Linked DNA regions of Homo sapiens: all the other regions are reported to be linked to region 1. The links are microRNA targets in miRTarBase. Many come from high-throughput screens and were not tested one by one. Region 1 holds a microRNA gene; each other region holds the end of a gene's coding sequence.
What was found. Region 1 holds the annotated microRNA hsa-miR-3934-5p (UCAGGUGUGGAAACUGAGGCAG, at 2,127-2,148, opposite strand). A microRNA usually pairs through its seed, bases 2 to 8, with sites in the 3' UTR of a target mRNA and lowers its output. Matches are read on the target gene's strand: a 7mer-m8 pairs with bases 2 to 8, a 7mer-A1 pairs with bases 2 to 7 and ends in A, and an 8mer does both.

Region 2: miRTarBase lists TRIB1 as a target of hsa-miR-3934-5p. Seed matches in the 3' UTR shown: 7mer-m8 at 5,697-5,703.
Region 3: miRTarBase lists LTAP1 as a target of hsa-miR-3934-5p. Seed matches in the 3' UTR shown: 7mer-A1 at 2,086-2,092.

Annotation. Positions count from the first base shown.
Region 1 is chr6:33,693,182-33,700,299 of GRCh38, reverse strand. MIR3934 (microRNA 3934) reads right to left here and starts at 2,172; the gene lies at 2,066-2,172. It overlaps ITPR3 (inositol 1,4,5-trisphosphate receptor type 3), which reads right to left. Exons shown (of 58, transcript NM_002224.4): 56 at 6,595-6,755; 57 at 5,215-5,376; 58 at 3,738-4,588. The coding sequence ends at 4,520. It overlaps UQCC2 (ubiquinol-cytochrome c reductase complex assembly factor 2), which reads left to right. Exons shown (of 4, transcript NM_032340.4): 4 at 2,550-3,536. The coding sequence ends at 2,647. RefSeq lists enhancers at 1,769-2,744, 4,641-5,840, 6,653-7,118.
Region 2 is chr8:125,435,095-125,442,206 of GRCh38, reverse strand. It overlaps TRIB1 (tribbles pseudokinase 1), which reads right to left. Exons shown (of 3, transcript NM_025195.4): 3 at 3,804-6,201. The coding sequence ends at 5,736. Among named protein-coding and RNA genes, the nearest start is that of TRIB1, 8.3 kb to the right of the region's middle.
Region 3 is chr1:154,201,812-154,208,923 of GRCh38, reverse strand. It overlaps LTAP1 (lipid transport auxiliary protein 1), which reads left to right. Exons shown (of 7, transcript NM_001098616.3): 7 at 1,276-2,204. The coding sequence ends at 1,471. CFAP141 (cilia and flagella associated protein 141) reads left to right here and starts at 2,591. Exons shown (of 4, transcript NM_001010979.3): 1 at 2,591-2,649; 2 at 3,286-3,326. The coding sequence starts at 2,617.

The DNA of each region.
Region 1 (7,118 bases):
CATGCATTTTGACCATATACTGTGGAGAAGGTCAAAGGCGTTATTTAAAAAAGAAAATCTATCTTTAGGGCTTTTAAATTCAAGGCTGGGCATCAGGGAACAGAGGAATACCTATTTGCCAAATGGAAGTAGTTGAAATCAGGATGGAAGGAAAATAATTTTATTTTTATGGTCTTAAGAGGGCTTTATAAACAATGAAGGTTTTAATTAAAACAAAAAACCATTCAATAAACGTGTTTGGGGATATCCGCCTAAGAGTTATGTGACCCAGGGGACGTGGTCTGTGGGTTAGATATGAGTTTAACTAGGTATGTTTTAGAGTCATTGATAGACTCTGATTATCAAGAAAGGAAACATCCTGCCAAGCCCGTCCTTTCCTTACTTCCCTATCTCCATTGTCCCTAAGGAGGGGGGCCGGAGAGCCAGGGATGAAGTAGGCAGGTACTGGAAAATTACTATTTTTGTTGCCAAGTATATTATATACAAAAATAGGTTAACCTTTTCTGGGAGGGCATGGCCCTGACACATTTCCTTCTGGTATTCTAGAAATGTGTCTTTCCTCTTCTTCTGGCAGCCTTCAGCAACTTAAGTTTTGAGGATTTGGGCTTCTAGAAAACTCTCTTCTGAGATTAAAACCTGGTGGTGTCACCTGCTATTACATGTCAACTCTAACCCTATTTTTATTCCAGTACTCTCTGGGAAACTGTGGTGAAGATATTTTGGCCAGGCAGAATCACTTTATTGGCAATTTTTTTTAATGTGTAAATTTACTCCTATATCCCTGGGTCCGTGTAATTAGCAGCATTGATGCACATTATTGTGAGGGCCCTGGACAGTTTGAGCAAAGTTTGAACTTGAAGTGAGGGCGGAAGTAAGTTCCAGAGGCCCTGCCTCTGCCCTCTGTTTTGTTCACCTCAGGGCAGCCTCTGCAAGTGGAAAACAGGCAGCAACGAAGGCTGGGAGATAGTCCCGCCATTGGTCCGCGCTGCAGCTTGTTCTGGCAGCGAGTTTAGTTCAGGAAATTTGCTGAGAATTTGTTTTCACAGCAAGCCTCATATTTTTGTTGCAAATTGTGTGGCGTAAGCTTACCAAATGTTTCCTCTGACAGGACAAGAAAAGACCTGCAGCACCTTGTAGTGAGAGGCTTTGAGGGCCTGGCAAGTCTGAAATGTGCTGTGTTCTGGGTTATGTGTGTGTCCACCCTGGGATTGGGGTCATGGAAAGCGCCTAAGGGAGGCCTCAGTGTCCACCTGGACACTGGAAACATGGACTTCTGGAAAAGCTCCAGAGCAGGGGCTTTTTTCTGTTACCTTTTTTGGTCAGAAAAGATACTCTTTTTTTCTCCAGTAGTTTTGTTAACGTGAAAATTTAGGCTGGTAAAGCAAAACAATATTATAAGAATATCTAAAATTTAACATGCACGTAAAATTAGATTTCATGGAACATTAGCCCTAGAGACTTTAGACAAATGGTTCCGTACTGGGGGGATGGTTTTGCCCCCCAGGGGACATGTGGCAATGTCTGGAGACATTTTTAGTTGTCACAACTGGTGGTGCGGGCAGCGGTGCTACTGGCATTAGTGGGTAGAGGCCAGGATGCTTTGAAACAGCCTTCAGTGATGCACAGGCCAGCCCACGACGAAAAATTATCTGGCCCAAAGTGTTGGTAGTGCCAAGGCCAAGAAACCCTGCTTTGGTTCCTGGGTGTAGGGACGTGTATGTTCTTAAACAAGAGCCCCTCCCGCCTGCATTGTGGTGGATGATGGCTGCCTTTTCATTGAGTGCGGGCTGTGTGCCAAGCGAGTTACCTCCATGCTTTTCTTTAATCCTTACAACTTTTGAGGTACGTGTGGTTTTTTTTTTCTTACTTTTTCACCTCTCCCCAAGTTGTCTGCAGATGTGTGTTTTTATCTTCATTTTACAGATGAGGAACCCGAAGCGTAGAGGGTTAAGTAATTTGCTTGAGGGGACCCAGAGTGGGAGATGATGGGCTCGGATTCAGGCCCAAGGCCATCCCCCTCCCAGTGCCTGCTCAACTCCACAGCATGTGCTGAGTCCACACACCAGGATTCAAATCCCTGCTCCACTTCCCAGCTGTGCAACCTGAGCAAGTTACTTCACTGCCTCCTGCCTCAGTTTCCACACCTGAAAACTGGGGACAGGAAGGGCTGTGTGGAGCAGGCCAAATTTTGCGATGAAGCATCTGGGTCTGTGGGTTGCACAGCGGACAGCGCAGGGCCATTTCTTTGCCCTCATACGGAGCAGGGCAACGAGCAGCACATCCCGCTTTGATGCCGAGGGTGAGGAGAGGGCAGGAGACCACTGACAGCGTGCTGGGCACAGAGTCTGGCACACAGTGCTCAGTCCCCGCAAGCGGTCACTTCTGTTACCTGTTTGATCTGCTCTTCAGGAGCTGGGTCTCCACCTTTTTCAGGAACACACTGTGTGAAAAGCAAGCCATGCTTGTGTCGGGAAAGCCCAGTGGGTCCAATCTATGTCATCAAGTTTTAGACTTCAGTCCCTCTCTCTTTTTGTCTTCCCCTTTTGCAGACACCTTGGAAGAGCTTAAGGAAATAGATAAAGGCATGTGGAAGAAACTGCAGGAGAAGTTTGCCCCCAAGGGTCCTGAGGAGGATCATAAGGCCTGAGCTCAGGCCTTACCTCGTGCACATACCTAGGTGTGGAGTCTTGTACATTGCCATCGTCAATAAAACTGCCCCAGTTTCCCCTTGACCTTACGGTTTGGGAATCTCCTCTAGCTTTCCCAGAAAGGAAGCCCTTGCTGCTCTAAAGAAAGTTTCAGCCTGAGAAGGGATGGTGATTGAGCTATCTGCTGTGACTGCTGCTCAGGGTAGGGAAATCTCCTGGGGAGAGGAAATGCAGGTTTCCCTCTGGGCCTGATGAGGGTAATGGGGCCTCGGCACAAGGTGCTTCCTGCATTGCCACGGGAGCCCCCGCCCCTCTGGCACGGGTCTGGTGTCTCCTGGCAAGATACTCAGGCTCCCTTTTGTTGTAGGAGCTCCTGGGAGGAAGCCAAAAATAGCAGTAAATACTGAAAAGGGCATCCTGTTGCAAACAGAAAGCAGTAGGGAGGTGTGAGGCCGAGAGAGGCAAAAAGCCTGCTTGGCCCTCATCCCCACTGACTCAGAGAAGGATGGACCTTAGGCCTCTATCCCTGACCTTGCAAAAACCCACATTGCCCAGTTGGCTTAAGGGACAGGGAAGCTATAGACAGGCCTTGGCCAAGCGGGGCCTCAGCTGCAGTTGGCTTCAGCACTGTGGGCAGGTTCTGTAGGTGGCCACAAGTCAGAGGCCCTGCTGGCTGAGGACACACACAGGGTCACCTCATTATTCCATGGAACCTTGGCTCTTACTGATATTGAGCATCCTTCTCTCTGGAACCGTGAGGGACAGGGCTGGGCCCACAGCGGCCCTGGTGGGTACAAAGTGGAAGTGGGTTCTTAACCTCGTCTGTGTCTAGACTCCTCAGGATGTTCTGAAATGCATAAAATAAAATCGACAGGACTGCCGTAGAAACCAGTTATGCCGAAATGCAGTTCTGGGTAGGCAAATCTCAGGGGAGGACCCTTGAGACAGGATGTCACTCAGCGTATCTCCTGAGAGCCTGAGAGGCCAGGCCAGCAGGGAGGGGCTCTTGTTCCTGTCTTCTGCCAGTGTGTCCTGTTAATCCCCACAGCCCCCGGGGGAGTGCAGGAAACACATCCCTTTTTAACGGACTAGATTTCTATTAATTTATTTAAGGCAATTAACATATTAGTTCTCAGGCCAAAGGATTTGTAAAACATTACACCAAAAGGAGAAAAACAAGCGGTCATGAAACAGCCACGCAAGCGCAGCTCAGCCCTTGTTGCCTGGGCGTACAACTCTTCCCCAGGAAGCCTGGGAAGAGGCAGGTCCTGGGAGCAAGATCGTCCATCATGGAGTCACCAGGCCACCTGGAGCCATGCCGGGGGTGGCATGGACACGACAGTGAGGTCTGCACTGGCTACAGCAGATCTGAGGCACGGAGGGAGCTGCACAGCCATGGGCAGGGCTGAGCACAGCACCCTTGAAATAAGTTAAATAACAAAGCCCTAAAATCACTAGTAACAGCATAACTGCCACCTCCCCCAGAGGCCGGCAGCCGCCAAAATGTAGTGCTTGGAGTTAAAGGGGTGACCCCACTCTTAACTACCCACAAGGAGGACTACAAAGAGTTGTCAGTTATTGCTTTAAGGAACAAAGGTCTCTAGGTAGGATTTATCTTCTGCTAAGGCATTAAGGTAAACTGAGTCCCAGTGAACTTTCAAGTCTTTTTAAGGGCTCTAAGCAGGACTGTCAGCTCTGAGGCTCCCCCTCCATGCTCTTCAAAGCCTGGGTGGGTGTCAGGGTGTCTGGCAGAGTGGGAGTGGAGGCTGGCCAGCTGGCTGGGCCACCCAACCCGAGGGAGGGGGCAGTGTTCTTCCCAGTCGCAGTCTCCAGTGATGAGCATCCCCTGTTGGGGCCTTCGGTGGCTCTCCTCAGCGGCTAATGCAGTTCTGGACATCCACAAAGCCTAGGCGTTGCCTGCGTTTCCGCTGCTCCGTCATCTAGGGTTAAGCAGATGCCAACAGGCCTGGTCAGGCCGCCTGGCACCTTCCCTCCATGGGTGCTGTGGAAGAGCTTGGCACCCGTCTTCCCCTGTGGGCCCAGCTGCTATTCGGCACTGGCGGCGGGCCAGGGCCCCTCGGGGTGCTTTAAGGATGTCGATGTCAGCACCAAACCCTTGTTCTCAATTAGCGTGTCACAAACCCTGGATTTGATGCAGCTGGGAAACCAGCCCACTAACAGAGGCTGCCTCATCTTCATGCAGGCACTGCCAGATGCAGAAGAGGATGTCTAGGCAAGAGGGCCTTAAACTCCCCCATCTCCAGTGATGGGGATCCCCTCAAAGGACCTACCTGGCAGCTGTCAGAGGAAGGGGATGAGAGACAGAGGGCCCCACCACCCTGTACTAAAGTTTCCACTTGGCCTTGTCTTTAGCGGCCCAAGGCAGGGGTTGTCAACCCCAGTCTGACTTGCCATGCAGGGGAGAGTGGGTTTGGCACCTGCCTTCTCATCCAGGCCCAGGGCCAGAGGCCAGTGGGGAAGAGGGTGGGTCAGGAAGGATGAAGGCAGGCAGGGACTGCCCAGGGATAGAACCCAGGGTGGGCCTGGGATCAGGCGGGGTGCACACCTGCTCCTTGAGCTCGTTGAGCTGGGCAGTGAGGTGGGACACCAGCTTCATGGTGGAGTTGAGCTTGTCCTGGAGAATCCGAATCTCATTCTGCTCCCCCTCGCCCTCATTGCTGACAAGGGACATGGCCCGCATCCGGGGGAACCAGTCCAGGTTCTTGTTCTGAAAAACATCACCAGTGGGTTAAGCAGGCGTGGGCCCGGCCTAGAAAGGCCTCATTTAGAAAAACAGTAATGTGGGGGGAGGCTTCTGCCACACCCTTAACAAAACTACTCGTCAGGGATGTGTCATGGGAAAATCTGAATTGACCTGGTCCTCCCCGGGGCCAGAGTGAGCTGGCAGTCAACCCTCTTGTCAACCCTCTGCCACCGAGACAGGCTGACTTCCGTTAGGCAGCGTCGGCAGCTGAGTTTGAGTCCTTTGCTGGTATCAGCACCATCTGTTTACTCTCATAACACCCCCTGAGAGGTGGAGGAAGGCCTCTGCACCCAGACAGACCCTGGATCTCCTTCCTTCCTTCCTCCCGCCCGCCTGCCTGACAAGCACGCCCCACGCCCCGGGAAGACGCGAGTCAGACAGATGGCAAATTGAGGGATCAGGAGGCTCCGCTGAGGAGAGCTGGCATCTGACACGTGTCTGGGAGGCAAAGCCACGTTTCCCAGGACAGAGGAGTCGGGGGGGGAGGGGGCACCAAGCAATTCTCAGCTTCCTTGTAGTAAGCTGTGAATTCTCAGACCAACAGATAAACCTGTACACAAAGATCAGTTTGAAATACAGACTAAACGATAAATAATTCCTTCTTTATGATTCATTGCCTTCACTCCATTATTACAGAAATTGGACAGATGACATTTGATTTCTGTAAGTGATTTTTAAAGTTTTTCCAGGCTCCCCTTCAGCCCAGGATCATCTAATTCAGACTTTTTAGGAAGCAGCCTGCCTTCCCACCGAGCTAGAAAACACTCCCTGAGAGCGGCCCACAGATCACTGGCCACGGGCAGGGTCTCCCCAACTCCACCCCTCCTCAGCATCACTGCACGACAGGCCCAGGGATACCACACGTGTTCTTCGGGGCGCATGGGTTTGCTGTGGGATTTTTCCTGACACCCAGAAGTGTGAGGAGGCCCCTCTGCAGCAGCGGCTTCCGTGCAGCCCAGAGCTGCTTCCAGCTGCTGCTCCTCGCCCTGCTGACCTTTCAACAAGTGTCTGCAGCTGTCCGAGCCCCTCTGCCTGGCCTCCTAGGGCCAACAGTCAGATAGGGCCACTCCTCTCCAGGGCCCAGGGTACTCAGAAGCTAAAACCATGAGGCCTCTGGTGCACAGTGATGACTCTAGAATGGCTGGTTTGGGCCCACAGGCCTGGCACAGCCCCTGCTCACACCTTGATCATCTGGGCCACGTAGCTCTCAGGGCCCGTGTAGTCGGTCTTGTTCTTCACGCGGACCAGCACAATGAAGTACAAGTAGTTCCACATGTTGTGCTCCAGCTTGATGTGTTCCTCAAATGACACTGTCTTGTTATCAAACTTGTCCCTCTCCAGACCTGAGGGTGCAGAGGGCGGGAATGAAACCATCAGCCTTCAAGAGCCACTGCAGGGTCACCTGCTGGAGGGGACCCAGCTTCCGGGGGTTGGAGGCATTTGTTCTCGGGATGAGCGCTTCCAACAGCTCGCTCTGGGCTATTTGGGTCACTTCTATTTAAAGCAGCAGCCACTTAGTGGAGATCCTGCCCTGCCGCAGCTGCAGCCCTCCCGCAGCAGCAACCGAGGACTCCAGGAGTAAACGCGAGAATTTCTCGAACTCAGGGGAAGCCCGAATGGCTGAATGAGCGAGGTCCTACAGGCCATACAGGTGACACCTGCCTGAGCCCGAGGTGGCTGGTGAGGGGACTAGCACTTCATTTCAG
Region 2 (7,112 bases), not on the chromosome of region 1:
CACAGGGTTACTGAGAGGGTAGAATAAGATGTGTACTGCAAAACGTCTGGCAGGATTGAGAGGTAATGCTTCTAGGACCGCTAAGTTGTTGACTGCAATCAAATCATTAGAGAATCAACTGAAATCTGATGTGGGCAGTTGCCAGGGGTTAGTAATGAAATCCCACTCCTCTTTTTTGGGGGGTGGTGGGGATCCTCCTTTTCCCAGTCAAAGCCATGCTGAAAAGCCAACTCCATACTCTTCATTGCTGCAATGCCTGATACGGTTTGGATATTTGTCCCTGTGAAAATGTCATGTTGAATTGTAATCTCCAATGTTGGAGATGGGGCCTGGTGGGAGCTATTTGGATCATGGAGGTGGATGCTTCGTGAATGGCTCTGGGTCATCCCCTTAGTGGTAAGTGAGATCTTGCCCTGAGTTCACACAAGATCTGGTAGAGATCTGGCCATTTGAAAGTATGCAGCACTTGGTTGGGCAGAACGGCTCATGCTTGTAATCCCAGCACTTTAGGAGGCCGAGACGGGCAGATCACTTGAGGTCAGGAGTTCGAGACCAGCCTGGCCAACATGGTAAAACCCTGTCTCTACTAAAAATACAAAAATTAGCTGGGTGTGGTGGTGGGTGCCTGTAATCCGCTACTAGGGAGACTGAGGCAAAAGAATCACTTGAACCAGGGAGGCAGAGGTTGCAGTGAGCTGAGATCATGCCACTGCACTCTAACCTGGGAAAAGAGTGAGACTCCATCTCAAAAAATTAAAAATTTAAAAAAGATGAGCAAATAAGAACCAGCAGACTGCTTATTCACAGTCATATAGCAAAAAAAACTTTGGCACTAGGAAGAGATCCTAGTCACAAGACTTCCACTTCTGTGCCCTTGGCTCTTTGACTTAGAGGTCCATTAGACTCTGAGCTGCTAGGGGATTGCCATTCATCCACCTACCTGTCCACTCATCCATCCATCCATTCACCCACCCACCCACCCATGCACCCATCTACCCACCCACCGATCCATCCATATTGGCATGCATATATATATGTATATAATATATTTTATATATATATATATATGTGTGTGTGTGTGTATATATGTGTGTGTGTGTGTGTGTGTGTGTGTGTGTGTATATATACATGTATATGAGGTTTTGTTGTTGCCCAGGCTAGTCTCCAGCTGGCCTCAGGTGATCTTCCTGCCTTGGCCTCCCAAAGTGCTAGTGCTGAGATTACAGGTATGAGCCACCACACCTGGCCCATGTTGGCTTTTGACAAATTTCTTGTGGAAGGCACTGTGCTGGTGCTGAGGAGCCAGGGGAGAACAAGACTGTCACACTCCCTGACTTCTTGGAGCTTTCCATTCAGTGAGCCAGAACTGAGCCTCAGTCATCTATTTCCCAAGGGTCTACCACAATGTCTGGCACATGGTAGGTGCCCAGTAAATGTTTGTTGAATGAATAATGGATTGCTCATCTTCCATAATGCCTACACATTTATAATTGACATACTGGGTCATTTGAAGACATTTGTGGAGCTAAAAATTCAGTATTTGTATTTGTCTTGAACCACTTTCTCTCATCATTATTCTTACCAGGAGACTTTGTGTGGTGGTGTGTAGGCAGAGCAACAACATTGGGCATGGAGTCCAAAGACCCAAGTTCATATCCCAGCTCTGAGCTGCTTACTCCTGAGTAGCTACTGAAAGACGTTTGAGCCTCTGTTTTTTCAACTTCAGGGAAATATTTGACTTGCCTGTTTCACTCATGTGCTGTGACTCCCTGGGGAGGAGAGGAGAAACTTCCAGAAAATATGACATGAATAAAAGGTTATTGAGATGTTACTTGGATGACTTCCTCAAATGACAAGTATGTTGATGACACAGGGGAAAATAAAAGCAGCCAGCTTTTCAGCACACTCATTCTGACCTTATATAATTTAACTGGTTGCAATTGCCCCAGATTTGTTCCAACCTTAGAAGAGATTAAATGTATGGATTTGTGGTATCACATGTCATCCCAGCCAATCCTGACCCATATTTCTGTCCATCTGGTTCATGCAACAACAGTACAAAGAGGTGTTATAACCTTAATTGCTTGCAAAGTCTTTTGAAATCCTTAGATTAAAACCTCGGTGAAGTCCGAAGTATTAGCATCCTGAATGCCCAAGAAGTCACGCTGAGCCTTGTCTGGGTTCACTGGAGCAGGCAACAAGGTCTGTTGTGAGGCCTGCTTCAGGAACTTTGGGGTTTAAAGTCCTATTCATGGGATGGCCAGAGACCAACCCCCAACTTCTGAGTTCCTAAGCTACCCAGGCATTTGGCCATTTCCCACGTTGCTTCTGAGATGACTTTTACATTTCTTAAGTTCCTGGGTCACAAGGCCTGAGTTGCTCTAACTTCAGTGTCTGCTTTCCTGGCCAATCCCAGCCTGAGTCCTAAAAAAGGGTAATTGTGTCATCACTAACTTCTGTCTGCCTCTTCGTATGAGTCCAGAGTTGATGAATTGGTCCTCATCCTAACTTATACAGGTTAGAATTAAAATCCCATCCCATGGTGGTTACGCTTAGAGCAGGCACCAGGCAAAAATTGAAAAGGGCAGGCAGAGGTTCCTGAGGCCCTCCCAGTGTTTTGCTTTCTAGATCTATTGGTTATGCCTGTGTGTTGTTTGTGAAAATTTACTGAGCTACACACTTATATGTGCATTTTTCTGTTGTTACATTTTACAATGTGAAGTATTTTTAAAAATCAATCTGGATACAAATTTACTTCATTTAGACTAGATTCTGAAGTGAAGCTATAAATAGTTAAGCTATAAACAATAAAAAACTCTTTTCCTTTCTCTACTTTTGTGATTCAAATTAATGTCACCTTAGTATTTTCCTTGCTTTTATTTCCATTTTCACACTTATGGAAAGAAAAAAGTAAAAGAAAGAAAATGCCTTGCTTGGCCGGGCGCAGTGGCTCACGCCTGTAATCCCAGCACTTTGGGAGGCCAAGGTGGGTGGATCATGAGGTTGGGAGTTCAAGACCAGCCTGGCCAATATGGTGAAACCCCGTTTCTACTAAAAATACAAAAATTAACCGGGCATGGTGTCGGGCGCCTGTAGTCCCAGCTACTCAGGAGGCTGAGGCAGGAGAATCACTTGAACCTGGGAGACAGAGGTTGCAGTGAGCCGAGATTGCGCCACTGCACTCCAGCCTGGGCGACAGAGCAAGACTCCGTCTCAAAAAATAAGAGAAGAAAAAAAAGAAAATGGTTTGCTTAGCCATTTTAATTAAGTCTAATGAAGAGGGATTGGTTCACAATCGGAAGTCCCATGATGCCTTCAGAGATCTGTGTGAACCTCTGCAATGATAACAAAATTTTGTTTTATACATGTGACACTGTTCTCAGGAGTGGTCATAGCTTTATCAAATTCTCAAGGGTCCACGGCCCAAAAAAGACAAGCTGATTTTTACAACTCAAGGTTAATTTATGAATGCTCACCTTCAAACGTTTCTTGATTCTGATTCTGCTATGAAAGAGTATAAAAAATAAAAAATGTTTCCCGAGTCTAAATTCAACCCAAAGCACGTATCAACACCCAATGGGCTTCATCCATCAAAATAAATTTGCCCACTGAAATGAGAAAAGCAAATGGGTTCAAGTCTGCCAAAGGTCATCGATGATCCTCATCATCTCTACTTTTCCACCTTCCCCTTGCTGCTCACCCCCAACTAGACTGTAAGTCCTGAGGCCAGAGACCTTTGCAACCTCTGCATGAAATTGCAAAAGGCAAAGCAGATGGAACTCGAAAGAAATTCACCACACCTATTTACGAAACCAGGTTTATTAAAATTTCTCTACAAGTCAGAAACGGCCATCTCACTGTTCACATATATACACGTATGTACAGGAAGAACCTAGTGTTTCTAGCTTTCCCGGCAGAAGGCCCTGCCAGCCCAGAGTCCTTAGTCGGATAATGTATCACAGATACAACAGTCGAGCAACCACGAGAGCGTTAGTGCGACAGAGGCCTCTGTCCTCCCTCTTCTCAAAGTCCCATGATTCTGTCAAGGTAATATTGCCAATAATCATTCACATTTCACGTGGTTTTAGACACGCAGGTTATTCAGACAGACACAGACAACAAAACAAGCCTCAAAGCCAGAACAAAACAAAACAAAACAAAATCGAACATAGGTATAAAAGGTAAAATATATGTACAAAGTACACAGTACGTGAGGTATACACGGCATTCTCACAATGCATGTTAGTAGTTTGCCTAGGCATAGCCCTTAAAGATGACTGCCTGTTTTTGTGCCATTTCTCAAAATACAGTATATTTTGTTTACCCGTTTAACCACCTGATTTCAGCACTGTCCAAGACAGTTACTGATATTTCATCTGAATTTGTTTTTTAATGAAAGTTGCAATTTCTCCATTAAGCTCCATCTTTTGTAGGGGAGTGAGTTTCCATCTCTGGACATATCTAACAGAGGCTGGATTCCCACCTACAAAAGAAGCTGAAGAGGGGATTTCTGCCTTGGGAGGTGGCAGAAAGAGGAAAGAGATTGGACCGGATGATTTTTAAAGTTCCTTCCAACTTTGAAGATTTGGGGTTTGCTGTTTCACTCCAGAAGCCGATTATACAGACGTATTCATAAACCACACATTTGAAATATTAACAACCCACCATGCAAAACTGCAGATGTACACACAATGCCAAAGGCGGACCATATCTGGGAGGGGTTAAAGTATAATTCTGGAAGTTAGTCTGAGAATCACAAGACTATCCAAAATTCACTCTCTTCAAAGCACAAAGATGTTTAATGTCTGCTCTTGGGAGAGGTGGGTGGGAGCCTCCTTATCTTTCTTCTCTTAGACAGAATGCTCCACCCTGAGATGGTCTTGGGGAAAAAGTAAAGGGTAGGTACTAACATATTTGGAAGGAACTTAAAAAGCTAATAGTTTCCAAGCACTCAAATTATTTTTTAAAATCTGGAGTCTCTCTGAGCTCAGAGTTCTGAAATCGTTGGGAGATGGAATCTTTTGTGATACTGTTCCACGTTCGGCTGGTAAGTGCTTTTATAGCTAAAGGGGGAAGTGTCAAGGTCAGGGAGAAGGCATTAGTGCAGATGAGGTCTTGGCAGGAAACAGAGAAGAGTCTCGGTTCATGGTTCCATCAGGCTCCTGAGCAACTTAAAACAGTCTGCTCCAAAAACGGAGCAGAGTCATTGGTAAATGTGAGTGTGAAGAAAGGGTGAGTGTTAAGCCAAAAAAGGAACTTTCCCATCAGAGAAGCTGCCGTAGCAGTCTAGCCACCAAAGATGAGTTCAAAGATGGCAGATTTATTGGCCCAATTTGTCACCCTGTGAAAAATACGGTTATTACTCAAAATATGTCATTGTGCGATTTGCTTTTTCTCCCATTCGAATGCTCAAGTTTATTACACACTTGACCACCGGGTGTAAGATGTCCATACTCTGCCCTCCACAAAAGATGCGGAACTCCCAAATCCAGCAGAGATAGTTGGTGAGGGTTCCTTAAGGGAAACAAATTTGCAGGGCAGCCAATCACAGCATATGCTGCTCAAATCAATAAAGTCACTCATCCCAACAGAGAAGAGGAGGCGCCATGCCGAGTTCAGCAGCTTTCATCCTGATGCAGTCATTATCTGGTTGGTACCACGCCAAAGGGCCTGTCCATCTTTAGAAATGGAAATGCCAGGTGTTAAGAATTATGAGGTTTCTGAGGTTTTGGGGATTAGCAGAAGAAGGAACTAATGTCACTGTCCTCCTGGTACTCTGGAACAATCTGGTCTGAAGTTCCTATTTCTGAGTCGATGTACCCGGGTTCCAAGACGGACTCAAACCAGGGGTGCAGTAGGATCTCGGGGGCAGTGAGTCTCTCGGAGGGCTCCCGTCTCAAGAGGCTGCGAATGAGGCACCTGGCTTTGGGGGAAATGTGCTCAGGAATGCAGAACTGTCCACGCCGAATTTTGGAGAAAAGGGCACTGGGGTCTGAGTCATGGAAGGGGTATCGTCCAACCAGAAGGGTGTAGAGCATCACCCCCAGGCTCCAAACGTCCGCAGCCTTTCCGGAGTAGGTCCCAGTGGTGTTGAGGATCTCAGGGCTCACGTAGGCTGGGCAGCCATGTTTGTCTGACAAAGCATCATCTTCCCCCTTCATTATGTGTGTGTCTTCTAGACTTTCTAGTCTAAGCTGGGTTCTGCAAGAGAGAGGAACCAAGCCATTATTTCCACACCAGCTGCTATGAAAAACAAAGCCTTCCCAATAACAGCGCCCACAGGCACTAACAGCAAAGGCTCCAGGAATGCTATTTACCCCTTCGTCCAGTAAGCAGTGCCCTGCAACTACCGAGGGCTCCTGATTTCACAAACTAACACGAACTGCAATAAATGTTTGCAAAGTATCGGCAGAGCGCCTGGGGTGGAGGGTATGAGGCAAAGCCCCAAATAGTATTCATAATGCTGGAGCTTACAAGAGATATCCTAATAGGAGTTACGCAATTTACTAAGTTCCCATTGCAGAACTGGGAGCCTGTCTCAGAATGCTGCATTCTCTACAAAAGCTAGCAGGGAAGAGCAGCATATCCTACTTCTTCAGAGAGGGCCTGAGCATCCTACGAACCCATCTTCCCTCTTATGACTGCCAGGGCTACCTGGACCCACACTGCATTACAGAACACGGAGCCCAAAGTCACTGCTATTACACACAGGTCATCAGCGCTGGTGCCCACACTGATACATGCACACAGAGCAAACTTTGTCCTCCTGGGCCCAGGCTGCAACAATTAGGATGGGAAAGTTGCAAGGAATGTTAATTACATTTATTGGGGTGTTTAACTGCAAAGAACACTTTGCCTGGACAGAGAGGTTATGCGAGCAAACAAAAGTGGCTGATGGATTTCAGGGACGCAGGGACCCTGAAATTCTTACACAGGGACACACACTCCCCCTGGGATGGCACATCAACATGTGAGCATATGTATTCTACAGGGGGGGTCTCTGTTCAGGTAACAACGAAAGTCTAAAACACCTTCAGTCAAAGGCTCTCTTATGAAGCTGCAGGTGCCTCCTTATTCAGAACCAGCCACCCAAGTCTCCTGGATCCCCCAAA
Region 3 (7,112 bases), not on the chromosome of region 1:
ATAGAAAAATTGGCTGGGCATTGTGGTATGCACCTGCAATCCCCAGCTACTCGGGAGGCCGAGACAGGTCGCTTCAACCTAGGAGGCAGAGGTTGCAGTGAGCCAAGATTGTGCCACTGCACTCCAGCCTGAGCAACAGAGAAAAAGACTCCATCTCAAAAACAAAAAATTATGTTTGATTTGTAGTTTCTAGGAATGTTCATTGGGTTTAGTGAAGAGTATAGGCTTTGAAATCTGACAAACTTAGGTTTGAATCCCAGGTCTGTCACTTAACTAGTTTTGTGACCTCATACAAGCTAATTATTGGACCCTTAGTTTCCTAATCTGCAAAACAAGGTGATACCTATATTGGGGATACCTGTCTCTGAAAAAAAAGCTTGAGCCAGAGGCAAGAACTCTGGGAAATTGGTTTCTCTGCTGCTAGTTGTTTTTGGTATGAGTAGGTGTGTGTCAGGGTACCCAAACAGGGCCTTTATTCTGTCACCCAGGCTGGAGTGCTGCTACTTTTTTAGGGTGTGTGTGAGAGAGAGAGACAGGGTCTCAGTCTGTCGCCCAGACTGGAGTGCAGTGGCACATTCATGGCTCACTGCAGCCTCGAATTCTGGGTTCAAGCGATCCTCCTGCCTCAGCCTCCTGAGGAACCAGGACTACAGGTGCTTGCCACCATACCTGGCTAATTTTTTGCAGAGATAGGGTCTCACTTTGTTTCCCAGACTGGTCTCAAACTCCCCTGGGCTCAAGCGATCTCTGGCCTCTGCCTCCTGAAGTGCTGGGATTACAGGTATAAGTGACCATGCCCAGCCTCTCTGCTACTTTTTTTTTTTTTGAGATGGAGTCTTGCTCTGTCACCCAGGCTGAAGTGCAGTGGCGCAATCTTGGCTTGCAACCTCTGCCTCCTGGGTTCAAGTGATTCTCTTGCCTCAGCCTCCCGAGTAGCTGGGATTACAGGCACCCGCCACCACTCCCAGCTAATTTTTGTATTTTTAGTAGAGACAGGGTTTCACCATGTTGGCCAGGCTGGTCTCGAACTCCTGACCTCAAACAATCCACCTGCCTGGGCCTCCCAAAGTGCTGGGATTACAGGCGTGAGCCACCGCGCTCAGCCTCTTGTATTTCTAAGCTACTAGATGGGGTTTTAGTAACTAGTTTACAAAATAGGACAGATAGGACACAAATAACTATTTGTGACTATTGCTGCATTTATGGCCTGGGATAAGCCCTGATTTCTTTGATTAGTCCTCATTCTGTCAATGACCTCCCCTCTCTGTTCTTCAGGGTTAAAGCACGAATTGGGAGCTCTCAGCGACATCACCAGTCAGCAGCCAAAGACCTAACTCAGTCCCCTGAGGTCTCCCCAACAACCATCCAGGTGACATACCTCCCCTCCAGTCAGAAGAGTAAACGTGCCAAGCACTTCCTTGAATTGAAGAGCTTTAAGGATAACTATAACACATTGGAGAGTACTCTGTGACGGAGCTGAAGGACTCTTGCCGTAGATTAAGCCAGTCAGTTGCAATGTGCAAGACAGGCTGCTTGCCGGGCCGCCCTCGGAACATCTGGCCCAGCAGGCCCAGACTGTATCCATCCAAGTTCCCGTTGTATCCAGAGTTCTTAGAGCTTGTGTCTAAAGGGTAATTCCCCAACCCTTCCTTATGAGCATTTTTAGAACATTGGCTAAGACTATTTTCCCCCAGTAGCGCTTTTTTCTGGATTTGCATTCAGGTGTTATTCTTAATGTTTCTGTCAAAGCTTCTTAAAAATCTTCACTTGGTTTCAGCCATAGTTCACCTTCCCTGTTCCAGGTTTATTTAATTCCAAAGGTGAGAGTTGGAGTGAGATGTCTTCCATATCTATACCTTTGTGCACAGTTGAATGGGAACTGTTTGGGTTTAGGGCATCTTAGAGTTGATTGATGGAAAAAGCAGACAGGAACTGGTGGGAGGTCAAGTGGGGAAGTTGGTGAATGTGGAATAACTTACCTTTGTGCTCCACTTAAACCAGATGTGTTGCAGCTTTCCTGACATGCAAGGATCTACTTTAATTCCACACTCTCATTAATAAATTGAATAAAAGGGAATGTTTTGGCACCTGATATAATCTGCCAGGCTATGTGACAGTAGGAAGGAATGGTTTCCCCTAACAAGCCCAATGCACTGGTCTGACTTTATAAATTATTTAATAAAATGAACTATTATCAAATAAAACGTATGAATCAGTCCTTTATAGTTGTCTTTTAATAAAACAGGCATTTGATAATGTTATCTGCACATTTCTAACAGGGTATAGGGCATGAGGATTTGCCTCCAGAGAATTGGTGGGACTGTGTGCATACCCTGGACCTACGACCATACACATACTCCTTGGGACCCTAGCACAAGAAATCCTAAAATCAGGACTGTGGCCCTTGCTCATAGATGCCTGTGTCACCAACAGAAGGCTGCAGAACAAGGATTCTCTCAAGGTTTCTGGGGCAACAGGCCAGGTGGCCAATCAACTCCTAGGCCCAGGGTTATTGTTGGAGGTGTAAATGTTACTATGACTACTGAAACCTTGGTTACTGAACTAAACAGAGGAGCCTGTCAGTCTCCTCAGACTGTATCAAGCAAATCTATAGACATGTCTGTGGAAAAGATGACAAAAGTAGAAGAGGTATGCAGAGTTGGAAGGAGGGGCTGGGTTGAAGTTTGATGAAGTTTCCAGATCAATTTACTATAAGTGCATCTTTTACTGGGAAAGGCTTTTGATGTAACAAGGGTATAATGTAGTTAGTAACAGGAGTGGGAGGCTGTGTCTAGTACACAGTAGGTATTCAAATATGTGTTCTATCCAACCCCTGCGTGTTTTCTTTGATCCATTCTGAAAGTAGAGCTTTCCTCTCCCTATTTCCCCCCAGGAAATTGCTTTCTCAAAAAGGTCTATGTGGCTGGGTGCGGTGACTCACGCCTGTAATCCTATCACTTTGGGAGGCTGAGGTGGGCGGATCACCTGAGGTCAGGAGTTCGAGACTAGCCTGACCAACATGGAGAAACCCCATCTCTACTAAAAATACAAAATTAGCCCGGCATGGTGGTGCATTCCTATAATCTCAGCTACTCGGAGGCTGAGGCAGGAGAATCGCTTGAACCCGGGAGGCGGAGATTGCGGTGAGCCGAGATCACGCCACTGCACTCTGGCCTGGGCAACAAGAGCAAAACTCTGTCTCAAAAAAAAAAAAGGTCTATGTCTCTCATTAGAATAGAGGTTCTGGAGACTGAGGCAGATCAACAGAACTACCTTTTCTTGCAGAGTTTTCAAAAGGCCATGGGACTTAAGAAGACGGTCGACAGGTAATCTGCTTCTATCCCCTCCCTTTACCTTTGAGCTTGACCTTTCCACTCTGCTGTCTTCCCTGAGCCACCTCCCAACTCTGCTGCATCTCTTTAGGGGCTCATCAAGAGGAAAACAGATGCGGAAGGGGTGAGAAGCAGCCTTGTCCTCAAAGCAAATGAGATCAGCCTCTTAGTGCCTACTAGGTTAGGTGATATAGATTGGTTTTTATTGTCCCCTGCCTCATTCTCTGGAGAAAAATTGAAGCATGTTTTTATTTTCTTTTTTTATCAAGAATTCAAGTATTTGTTGCCTGGCTTTGTACTAATTATGTGGTTGGTAGTGCAGTATTTGTTGAACCAGTGAATGAGAAGATTCACAAGACTGGGCTACGTATCCTTTTCACCCTGATGAACTTTTGAAAAAACTGATGCAGCCGGGCGCGGTGGCTCACGCCTGTAATCCTAGCACTTTGGGAGGCTGAGGCAGGAGGATTGCCTGAGCTCAGGAGTTCAAGACCAGCCTAGGCAACATGGTGAAACCCTGTCTCTACTAAAATACAAAAGAAGTTAGCCAGGCATGGTAGTGTGCGCCTGTAGTCCCAGCTACTCGGGAGGCTGAGGCAGGAGAATTGCTTGAACTTAGGATGCGGAGGGTGCAGTGAGCCAAGATCGCACCACTGCACTCCAGCACTCCAGCCTGGGTGACAGAGCAAGACTCCGTCTCTACAAAAAAAAAAAAAAAAACACTGATGCAAGCCTGGCATGGTGGTTCACACCTATAATCCCAGCACCTTGGGAGGCCGAGGCAGGGGGATTGCTTGAGCCCAGGAGCTCGAGACCAGCCTGGGCAACATAGGAAAACCCTGTCTCTACCAAAAAAATTAAAATTAGCTAGGTGTGGTGGTGCATGCCTGTAGTCTCAGCCACTCAGGAGACTGAAGCAGGAGGATCAGTTGAGCTCAGGTCAAGTGATGCCACCACTGCATTCTAGCCTGGGTGAGAGAGGAAAACCCTGTCTCAAAACAAAACAAAATGAGCTGGGCACATTGGCTCATGTCTGTAATCCCAGCACTTTGGGAGGGCAAGGCAGGTGGATTGCTTGAGCTCAGGAGTTCGAGACCAGCCTGGGCAACATGGCAAGACCCCCATCTCTACCAAAAAACTTAATTTAAATAAATAAATAAGCACTGATGCCTAGTTCTTAACCCTAGGAGATTCTGATAAAAGTGGTCTGAAATGGGATAGGAGAAGCCTTTTTTTAAGGTTTCACGGGTTATATCCAGAGCTAGCAAGGATGTGAAGAAACAAGAACATATATGATTTTAATAGGAGTCTAGGTTGATACAGCCATGTTTACAAAGGCAGTTTGATAAAATCTATCAAAATTTAAATTTACATATCCATTGAACTGGCAAAAATAGGAATTTATCTTAAATATACATACTTGGAAAAGCACTAGAAGGTACATACACAAGAATGTTCATGACTATTGCTTTTATTTATTTATTTATTTATTTATTTATTGAGATGGAGTTTCGCTCTTGTTGCCCATGCTGGAGTGCAGTAGCACGATCTCAGCTCGCTGCAACCTCCGCCTCCTGGGTCTAAGCAATTCTCCTGCCTCAGCCTCCTGAGTAGTTGGGATTACAGGTGCCCGCCACCACACCTGGCTAATTTTTGTATTTTCAGTAGAGTCGGAGTTTCACCACGTTGGGGTTTCGCCATGTTGGCCAGGCTGTTCTCAAACCCCTGACCTCAAGTAATCGGCCTGCCTTGGCCTCCCAAAGTGCTGGAATTATAGGCGTGAGCCACCACGCCCGGCCTGATTACATGTTTTTTAAAAAAGAAGATGTACTTCCCAGTTTATGATAGAAACATTTTCTGAAAACATTCACAAGTAGCTGGGTGTGGTGGCTCATACTTGTAATCCCAGCACTTTGGGAGACCAAGGCAGAGGATCACTTGAGTGCAGGAGTTTGAGACCAGCCTGGGTAACAGTGAGACTCCGTCTCTACAAAAAAATAAAAATTAGCCAGGCACACACCTGTTGTCCTGGCTATTTAGACAGCTGAGGTAGAAGGATTGCTTGAGCCTAAGAGGTTGACATTGTAGTGATCCATAATCACACACTGCACTCCAGCCTAGGCAACAGAATGAGACCCTGTCTCAAAAAAATATATATGCAAAAGTTACCTGGGCGTGGTGGCACACGCCTATAATCCCAGCTACCCAGGAGGCTGAGGCAGAAGAATTGCTTGAACCTGGGAGGCAGAGGTTGCAGTAACCAGAGATCGCACCACTGCACTCCAGCCTGGGCAACAGAGCAGGACTCTGACTCAGAAAAAAAAAAAAGTAAAAACTACAGTCATTCCCAACAAAGTATATATATATATATATATATATATATATATATATATATATATATATATATATATATATATATTTGCCCAGTCAGAGATAACAACTTTTTTTTTTTTTTGAGGCAGAGTCTCTCTAAGACAGAGTCTTACTCCACCACCCAGGCTAGAGTGCAGTGGTGCAATCTCGGCTCACTGCAGCCTCCACCTCCTGGGTTCAAGTGATTCTCGTGCCCCAGCCTCCTGGGGAGCTGGGATTACAGGTGTGTGGCACCACGCTCGGCTAATTTTTGTATTTTTAGTAGAGATGGGGTTTCACCATGTTGGCCAGACTGGTCTTGAACTCCTGGCCTCAAGTGATCTGCCCGCCTCAGCCTCCCGAAGTGCTGGGATTACAGGCATGAGCCATTGCACCCAGAAAGTTTTTACTTTTCACTTAATGTATTTTTTTTTTCCTTGGGACGGAGTCTTGCTCTGTCGCCCAGGCTGGAGTGCAGTGGCACCATCTTGGCTCACTGCAAGCTCTGTCTCCTGGGTTCACGCCATTCTTCTGCCTCAGCCTCCCGAGTAGCTGGGACTACAGGCACCCGCCACTGCGCCCAGCTAATTTTTTTATATTTTTAGTAGAGACGGGGTTTCACCGTGTTAGTGAGGATGGTCTCGATCTCCTGACCTCGTGATCTGCCCGCCTGGGCCTCCCAAAGTGCTGGGATTACAGGCATGAGTCACCGCGGCCGGCCTCACTTAATGTATTTCTGTGTAGATTCAATTTTTTCAACATGTGGAAAATGTACTTTTGATTTTTTAAAAATGCCAACAGTAGATATATGTACATGCATGATGTATATTTATATTCTTTCTATATATTAAAAAACTTAAAACTGGCCTGGCATGGTGGCTCACTCCTGTAATCCCAGCACTTTGGGAGGCTGAGGCAGGCTGATCACTTGAGGTCTGGAGTTCGAGACCAGCCTGGCCAACATGGCAAAACCCCACCTCTACTAAAAATTTAAAAATTAGCAGCCAGGCATGGTGGCTTACGCCTGTAATCCCAGCACTTTGGGAGACTGAGACAGGTGGATTACATGAGGTCAGGAGTTCAAGACCAGCCTGGCCAACATGGTGAAACCTCTGTCTCTACTAAAAATATGAAAATTAGCTGGGCGTGGTGGCATGCACCAATAATCCCAGCTACTCAGGAGTCTGAGGCAGGAGAATTGCTTGAGCCCAGGAGACAGAGGCTGTAATGAACCCAGATTGCGCCACTGCACTCCAGCCTGGCTGACACAGTGAGACTCTGTCTCCAAAAAAAAAAAAAAAATTACCTGGGCGTGGTGGTGGGCGCCTGTAATCCCAGCTACTCAGGAGGATGAGGCATGAGAATTGCTTGAACCTGGGAGGCAGAGGTTGCAGTGAGCCAAGATCGGGCCATTGCACTCTGGCCTGG